Homo sapiens: one gene and its partner. The protein of the gene in region 2 purifies or fractionates together with the protein of the main gene of each other region. This does not show direct contact. Each region holds a gene or a part of one and is shown on either strand. Other genes may lie near its edges.

The links.
Region 1: the proteins of PCDHA11 (region 2) and LONP2 purify together in Homo sapiens (affinity purification with mass spectrometry; one large-scale study listed by BioGRID and IntAct). This does not show direct contact.

What each region holds. Positions count from the first base shown.
Region 1 is NC_000016.10:48,268,250-48,272,071, reverse strand, and holds part of LONP2 (lon protease homolog 2, peroxisomal), read right to left. Parts: intron 2,057-3,822; coding exon 1,798-2,056; intron 1-1,797. UniProt on the Homo sapiens protein: ATP-dependent serine protease that mediates the selective degradation of misfolded and unassembled polypeptides in the peroxisomal matrix.
Region 2 is NC_000005.10:140,867,135-140,871,756, reverse strand, and holds the start of PCDHA11 (protocadherin alpha-11 isoform 1 precursor), read right to left. Parts: upstream 2,801-4,622; 5' UTR 2,654-2,800; coding exon 263-2,653; coding exon of another isoform or gene 221-262; exon of another isoform or gene 157-220; intron 1-156. UniProt on the Homo sapiens protein: Potential calcium-dependent cell-adhesion protein. May be involved in the establishment and maintenance of specific neuronal connections in the brain.

The DNA of each region.
Region 1 (3,822 bases), on a different chromosome or scaffold from region 2:
ACAAATTACCTACATGTCACGTGCTTATGATGTCAATTTCACATAGCATTAATTCCACGAACTCACTCTCTAAATGCCATCAAATACTTACTCTGTAGCTAAAATTAGAAGATTTAGGCCCTAGACGCAGCTTCTTTGAGTTTGGTCCAAGAGAAATGCCAATTCCTTTACGAAAGCAAACTATAGCCTCTAGTGGTACATGCAAGAATAAGAAGTCTAGGCAACAAAAATATCTTTTGAAATTGCCAGAAGAAATCACCCAAATCAATTCTCTACTCTGATCTGCACGCCTCATTGTTTATTTACTAAAATCTTGTGATGAGTCTTTTTTAAAATTTATTATTATTATTTTTTTAGAGATGGGGTGTCACCAAGTTGCCCAGGCTGTTCTTGAACTCCTGAGCTCAAGCAACTGCCTGCCTTGGCCTCCCAAAGTGCTGGGATTACAGGCATGAGCTACTACACAAGGCCAGTAATGATACTTTTTAAATGCGTAAGAATTTTAAGTGAGCAAATAAAAGAGAATAAAAATAACCATTTCTTATAGAAAAGTTTCTGAAACAGTTTCCCATCCCTGTCTATGGATAGGGATCCCTTTGAATAAGGCACATAGAAAACAAGATATTAAAAAAGCATCATATTCTTTTATAAGCAGTTCATGGTTCCTACATTTAAACATGTTCTTTAACACATACACTATAGGTATGTTTTCTCACAACTTACAATTGCTATGAATCCCTTAAACCACGAAATGTAAATTCATGCTTTCCCAAGGCAATTTCCATCAGATCAACAAAGAGACCAGTGAGAACAATGAATGCAACATGCAAATCTGATTCTAATAATGTCAGATTAATCAGAAACAGTTTTGTTGTTGTTTGTTTGTTTGTTTGTTTGAGATAATGTCTCTGTCTCCAGGCTGGCGTGCAGTGGGACAATCATGGCTTACTGCAGCCTGGACCTTCCCAGGCCTAAATGATTCTCCCATCTCAGCCTCCTGAGTAGCTGGGACCACAGGTGCATGCCACTGTGCCTGCATAATTTTTTAATTTTTGTGGAGACAAAAATTAAAATTTAAAATTAAAAAATTTAAATATAAATTTTGTAGAGACAAAAGTGTTTCCCTATGTTGCCCCGGCTGGTCTCAAACTGTTAGGCTCAAACAATCCACCCACCTCAGCCTCCCAAAGTGTTAGGATTACAGGCATGAGCCACTGTGCCCAGCCTAGAGGGACAGTTCTTACAGTTTATTGTTTTTTTATAGAAAGTGAGTCCAAAATGCAAGAATAAGCCTTAATAATTATGCTAACATTTATCCTTATTACTCATATTCATAATACAAACCAACCTTCATAAGAGGAAGTTTAGACTGCAATCAGAACAAGTTTGTTATCAAAGACTTCTCACCTCCTCCTATTGGCCCTCCCTATTGCAGTTACTTTTTTTAACTCTGAGAGTTAGGGATCATTATTTATGGCATGCTACTGGGTTGAAAAGAGTGTAAAGACATAATAATATCCAATCATAAATAACTTATAATTACATTCAAATGAGATTCCAGGAAAGTTGAGGCACAGAGTAGTATCCACTGTCATACAAATCAAGGTTAGTTTGGGTTTATCATTACGCTTAGAGGCTCTAGGCTAGCTGATACTTCTTGTAAATGTCCTTTTCATTCAAGGTACCACACATAGCCCTTTAAGGAAAATAGATGTATGCTATGCCTAAGCTTTTAGGGAGCTCTAGTCAATTAAAAAGAAAGAGGAATCAGAGATTAAACTGAGAGAAGTGTTCTACCTGTGTCCTCGAATGTCAGACTGATCACATACTCCTCCAAGTGCAATCCTGTGGAACTCTCGACCTAGAGTCTTGGCCACTGATCTTCCCACACTTGTTTTACCAACTCCAGGAGGGCCAACAAAGCATAGGATTGGGCCCTTCAGGTTATTTTTGAGCTGTCTGACAGCCAAGTATTCCAGTACTCTTTTCTTCAATTTTTCCATGGCGTAATGGTCATTATCCAGAAGAATCCGGGCTGCCCTAATGTCCAGGCGGTCTGTCAAATAACCCAACAGAAATAATTAGAACACATAAAATTTTTAAGTTAAAGAACTCCTTTCAAGCATGACGAGGGCAAAATATTTTTTTTGAAAATAGATGTGATAAGAACAGACTTGGATCTTTCTAGATGAGGATTCTAGGAGATCTGCATTTGGTTTGGTTTCTCTGCTTAAGACTTAGTGTCCCCAGAGATAGTAGGCACTACACAATTAAAAACTCAATGTTCATATCATTTTATTTGGAATGATTTTCTAGTTATGCATTACTTCTTAATTTCTACATATTGTATGTGTGCTGGCATTTGTTTTTTAAAAAAAAGGGTGATTTTTTTCCTTATTTCAGTAGTAACATATGTTCATTCCAGAAAACCTGATAACACTAACAGAAAAGAAGAAAACAGTTACCCATAATCTCATGCCCCCAAGAGATCACCACTACCTTTACTTCAGTATGTGTAATTCCAGGCTGTGTGCGTGCATTTACAAACCTATTTTTCAAAATGGGATTTTATGGGGCCTTTAAGTTTTGTAAAATGTTTTTTTCACTTAATATATGACAGACAACTTTCACTGTCACACATATATTTATCAGTAACATTCTATGGTTACTTAATGTTCCATTACTAAATTATCTATATTCATTTAACTAATTCCCTACTGCTGAGCATTCAAGTTGTTTACACATCTTTACATTTATAAAAGATGCTTCAACTGTGCATCACTGGAACTAAATCTTCCCATATATCTGCAATGATTTCTTTCAGCTTATCTTCTATGAACAGAAGTGCTGGGTCAAAAAAAAAAAAAAAAACAGATGATGTAAAGAATTGCCTAATTGCCACACAGAAAGTTGTATCAAAGTCTCACCAGAAGTGTATGAGTTAGGCTTTGTTTCTAGAGCCAAGCTTTCAACAGGTTTACTAATAAGATTTAGCATTTAAAATACTCAGATTAAACACCAGGTAACAGAAGCCAAAATGAATTCACTAGCTGGGTGGCTGCCAGGGTATAATACACAGCCACCTGATCATGCTGGCAGTGAAAGAAGAAGATGGGAGAGAGAAATACACAGAAATCTTTTAATTAATTAATACATATCTTTTAATTAATTATTTAGAATTTGCTAAGGATATTTCATAAAGGAAAAAAATGGCCTGAGATGGTAATTTGGTTCCCAAGCTAGTCCCCCAAAAAACCTAGCTAAGCAGTAAACTATATAATTTAATTATAGTACTATTGATTTTAGTCAGAGTCCTAGGTGAGTGAAGTAGGAGAAGAACAACTAAAATTTCTTCCCCCTTTCCTGGCTCCAGAACCCAACCAATGAATATATGAAGAAGTGAAAGATAGAGAGTTTCTCAATTGTTTCACAGTGCTAGCCCTGACACTAAAACCTACCACAGTAAACATAAAAGAAAACCTCAGACAAATCTTTTTATATAGCTGTAAATATTAAAATGCTAGTAAATCAAATCTATAAAGAATAATATACTAAGTCCCAGTGGGATTTATTTTAGTTATGCAAACATGGTTCAGTGTTAGGTCATCAATGTCATCATGTTCAAGAAGAGTAAGTTTCCATCAAAATATCATCTTGTACCTAAAAAGGTACTTGTTATAATGCGTTATCCATTCATGATTAACACATTCAGTAAGGTAAGAATAAAAGTCAAGATAATTTAGAAAAGACTGAAAACACTGTGAAGAAATTTCTTGCAAGAAATATGCCAAGTAAAGACAATTTTAAAAGTTCTTTCAATCT
Region 2 (4,622 bases):
CATCTCATTTCTTTTAGGATTTGCTAACCAAATATTAAGAGAAATAGGACATTTATTGGTTAAAGAAGCCAGATTATTCATATGATTAAAAGACTGAAGATGTGTATCATTTGGTATTTTATGAACAGACATTGTTATCTAAAACAATATTCAAAACACTGGTTATTCATAAAACTTTCCCTTAAAAAATCCGTGAAAAAAAACTGGATTTTAAATAATTTCACATACACTTCCTGATAGGTGGAATCTGTAGAAAACTCACCTGTCCGGGGTGATTTGACCCTGGCTCCTGTCTTTCCCCTTCCTCCTCTTTATTCAGACCTAGAGGAAGACTGGGGCTGAAGGCCATGAGGTCCGTCTTAGGTGGGCCCTCCTCAGAGCACACCCTCTGCCGCCTCTGCTGCGAGTATGACCAGCTCCCCACCGCGCGGGAGCACACCAGCGTGGGCTTCCCCGGCGCGCACGCGCCCTCAGTGGGCGTTGCCGACCACCACAGCGCCGTATACAGCAGCAGCGTGAGTACCAGGAGGCTGGACACCACGCAGATGGCGATGATCAGGTACACGTTGACATCCACCAGCGCAGCCTCTGGGCTCGCGGCGCCCGCCAAAGTCCGGGAAGAGGCCTTTGGCGCCTGTCCGCTCTCCACCAACGACACCAGCACGGTGGCCGTGGCCGTCAGCGCCGGCTCACCGTGATCCTTCACCAGTACTAGAAGTCGGTGGCGCGGCGAGTCTGCCTCGTCCAGGGCACGCGTTGTGCTTATCTCGCCCGTGTACAGCCCCACGCGGAACGGGATGCGCGAGCCGCCCGCCGCCGGCTGCAATTCATATGAAAGCCACGCGTTGTAGCCTGAGTCCGCATCCACTGCGCGCACCTTCGCCACCACGTGGCCCGCACCCACCGACCGCGGTACTAGCTTGTTAACTGCGCCTCCCGCGCTGCCAGCCTGAGTCGCCAGCAGTGCCGGCGCGTTGTCGTTCTCGTCCAGCACGAACACCTGCAGCGTCACGTTGCTGCTCAGAGGCGGCACGCCCGCATCGCGCGCGCTCACCTGGAACTGTAGCAGCTCCAGCTCCTCGTGGTCCAACGGCTGCAGCGCGTACACCTTGCCGCTCTCCGCGTGCACCGACACGTAGCTCGACAGCGCGCGGTCGCCCAACCGCCGCTCCACCAGCGAGTAGGACACCAGCGCGTTCTCCTGCGCGTCCGCGTCCCGCGCCGACACTGTGAAGATGTGGCAGCCTGGTGGGTTGTTCTCCTTCACGAACACGGTGTACTCGGGCTGTGCGAACGCAGGCGCATTGTCGTTCACGTCGGCCACCTCCACGGATACCCTGGCCGTGGCCCACAGAGAAGGCGAACCCCCATCCCGCGCAGTCACCACCAGTTCATAGGCCCACACGTTCTCGCGGTCCAGGGCGCTGTCCAGCACCAACGAGTAGTAATTCTTGAAGGTGGACACCAGCTTGAAGGGAACGTGGGGCGTCAGCGAGCAGGTCACCTGTCCGTTGACACCTGAGTCACGGTCAGACACGCTGATCAGGGCAATGACCGTGCTGGGCTGAGCGTCCTCTCGTACTGGGAGGGACAAGGAAGTCACGGCGACTTCAGGAGAGTTATCGTTGGTGTCCAAGATTTCCACCCAGACTGTACAGTGACCTGCCATTGGGGGAGTCCCCTTATCTGTAGCCTGTACTTCAATTTTATAAAACTTGTTTTCTTCATAATCTAAAGTTCCATTGACCCTCACTTCTCCATTATTTTGATCTAGTGTAAATAAGTGTCTTCCATTGGGCTTAATTGACATTAAGGAGTATGTTACCTCTCCATTGACTCCTTCGTCTCGGTCTGTGGCGTTTAGTTTGAGCACAAGAGTTTCTTTAGCAGCATTTTCCATAAGGCTCACCTTATATTCTGATTTATCAAACTCTGGATCATTGTCGTTGACATCCAAGACTTGGACTAACAGCCGAACGGTGCCAGTAAGCTCTGGTTTTCCCCCGTCTGTAGCTGTTAGCAGCAAATTAAGTTCCGGAGTTTTCTCTCTATCCAGAGACTTCTTTAAAATAAGTGACAGTCTTTTAATCTGCTTACCATTTGTTGGTGAATCTAAAGAAAAATACTCATTTTTACTTAGCCTGTAGGTCAATAGAGCATTCTCTTCAATGTCAGCATCAGAAGCTCCCTCTAGTGGAAAACGCGAGTCCGATTGCTTAGATTCCGCAATCAGCAGCTTTTGTTCTCTGAGCGAGAACACCGGCGGGTTGTCGTTAATGTCCTTCACCTCCACGTTCACATGGAAAACCTGCAGCGGCCTGTCCACGATCACCTCCAGGTGGATGCTGCACTCCGCGCTCTGCCCGCACAGCTCCTCGCGGTCGATCCGAGAATTCACAAACAAAATGCCATTCTGCAGATTTACCTCCAGAAGGTCCCCATGTGTTTTGGACGCCACCCGGAACAGGCGCTGCACCAGCTCCGCCAGCTCCAGCCCCAGGTCCTGCGCGATGCGGCCCACGAAGGTGCCGTGTTTGGCCTCCTCCGAGACGGAGTAGTGGAGCTGGCCGCTCCCCACCTCCCAGAATTCGAGGAGGAGAAGCCAGAGCTGTAGTCGTGGGGTGCCCAATCCCCTTCTCTGAAAACCAAACATCGCATACGAAATTGGCTTCCAAAATAAGCTTCTTTACACTTACAGTACCAGATTCTTCAGTTTCAGGTTAAAAATCTCGTTGAATTCTTAAGAAGTTTCAAAGGATCCTTAAACGGTGGCATCCGGTATGATGGAGTTCCTTTGTATGGGAGTGCCTCACTGTTCAGACCAACCTTTAAATGAACTTTCCACCAAGTAAAGAGCGACACCTTGCGCCTAAAACTGTGAGTACTGTGCACTGCATTTACCACCACAGAATTTCACGTGTTTTGGGTTTCTTCCCCCAAATATTTCCAACGTGCTTATTTATGGAATATTCAGATTATAAGTCATATTGAAACTAAATATATATGGAAATGGCATTGTATTTCTCGATTAACATCAAATTTAAATTATTGTGTCTATGTTTGACTTAACATTATAACATTGTTCTTTTACTTATCTAAAATACTTATACACAGAGTGAGAGAGAAAGAGAATTCAGTTGTTAAGGTGGCCTCATGAAAAACTAGGGTTAAACATTTCCTGAAAGTGTTGTTCCTCATATAAAAATACTATCAAATTTGAATTGTTTTACTTTCAGTCTCCCTTGTTACTTTGGCTGCTAGGGAACTCAAAGAAAAAATTGAAGTTTTATAAAAGCAGCTCTTTAGTGTTTATGTTCCACATGATCTATTCTCATCTCTGTGGGCTTGCATTTTCATATCTATTTTCTATAGTTCTCATTCTTTACTGTTATTTACATTTAATTGCTTTCTGATTATAAGTGACTTTATATTCATTGCAGAACAATATGAAAAACAAATATATTCATATTCTCAAACTTGGTAGTTTTAAAAAAGAATCCACAAAGGAAAAGTCTATTGATCTAGATGAGTTTTTATTTGACATATATTATTTCTAATGTAAGCCATAGTAGCATAATATGAGATATCAAAATTTAGCACTTTATGTAACAGAATCAATGATATGACAGAAATAGGCTTTTCAACTATAAAATAAATTTTATTATCATTTTATAAAATAAATAAAATCACCCTGAACATCTTTGTGCCATATTGGTATTTCCAAGTCACCAACATTGGTTTCCTTAATCTAATTCAGTTATATTCATGAAAATAGTTTGTTTCTTGTTGAAAGAATTTTGGGTTTGGGAGCAGAAGTTCATGGAAAACAAGGGAAGTGATTTTTAATTATACCTTCTGTAAGTACCTGATATTGTGCTTAAAACATAGAAAATTAATCAAACAATTCAACTAAATGGTAAATTACCTTAGTGCTTGTGGAAATGGAATTTCATAGAAAATGCTAAGTAAAATACAGGAATTGCTTATGAGAGTTTTCTTTGCCTGAAGTTGTAACTTGCTTGAATTTTCTTTGTCTTTTCATATACCCTTAGGATTTAGGAGGAAAAAAAGAAGATGCAACAAAATTTTAGAGTAGAAAGTGATTTAGAATAAATATCACTCTAGCTTAAATATTTTGTTCTATAGTTTTGATGGTTTATCTCCAATCTAAAAATACTGCAAGGGCATATGAAAAAGTTATCATATGTGTATGCTAATATTTTATATATATATTCAACTATTAATTTGAGATTTTGTTCTACTTTTTTCATATTTACTCTTTTCCCAATGTTGTCATAACACTAGAACTCTAATTCAGGTAAATGCAAAATTCTGTATTAAAAAATTAAAGGAGACATATCAACTTTTATAACCGTTAATTCCATTACGCATCTGTAAAATAATCAATCATAGTAGCCTCTAATCAAAACATAACATTAGACCAGATGACAGTATATTCAACATGATATTTGAAGCACATCAGGTTTATTTTGAACAAAAGGAAACAACAGATCCTCAATCACCTTATTATGGGAATTGGGGATGAAGATGTTACATGGAATGTGGAGTCTTGCGAGGTAGGGAAATGAACCTTAGAAGGTTTACTCTGGAAAAATGATAAT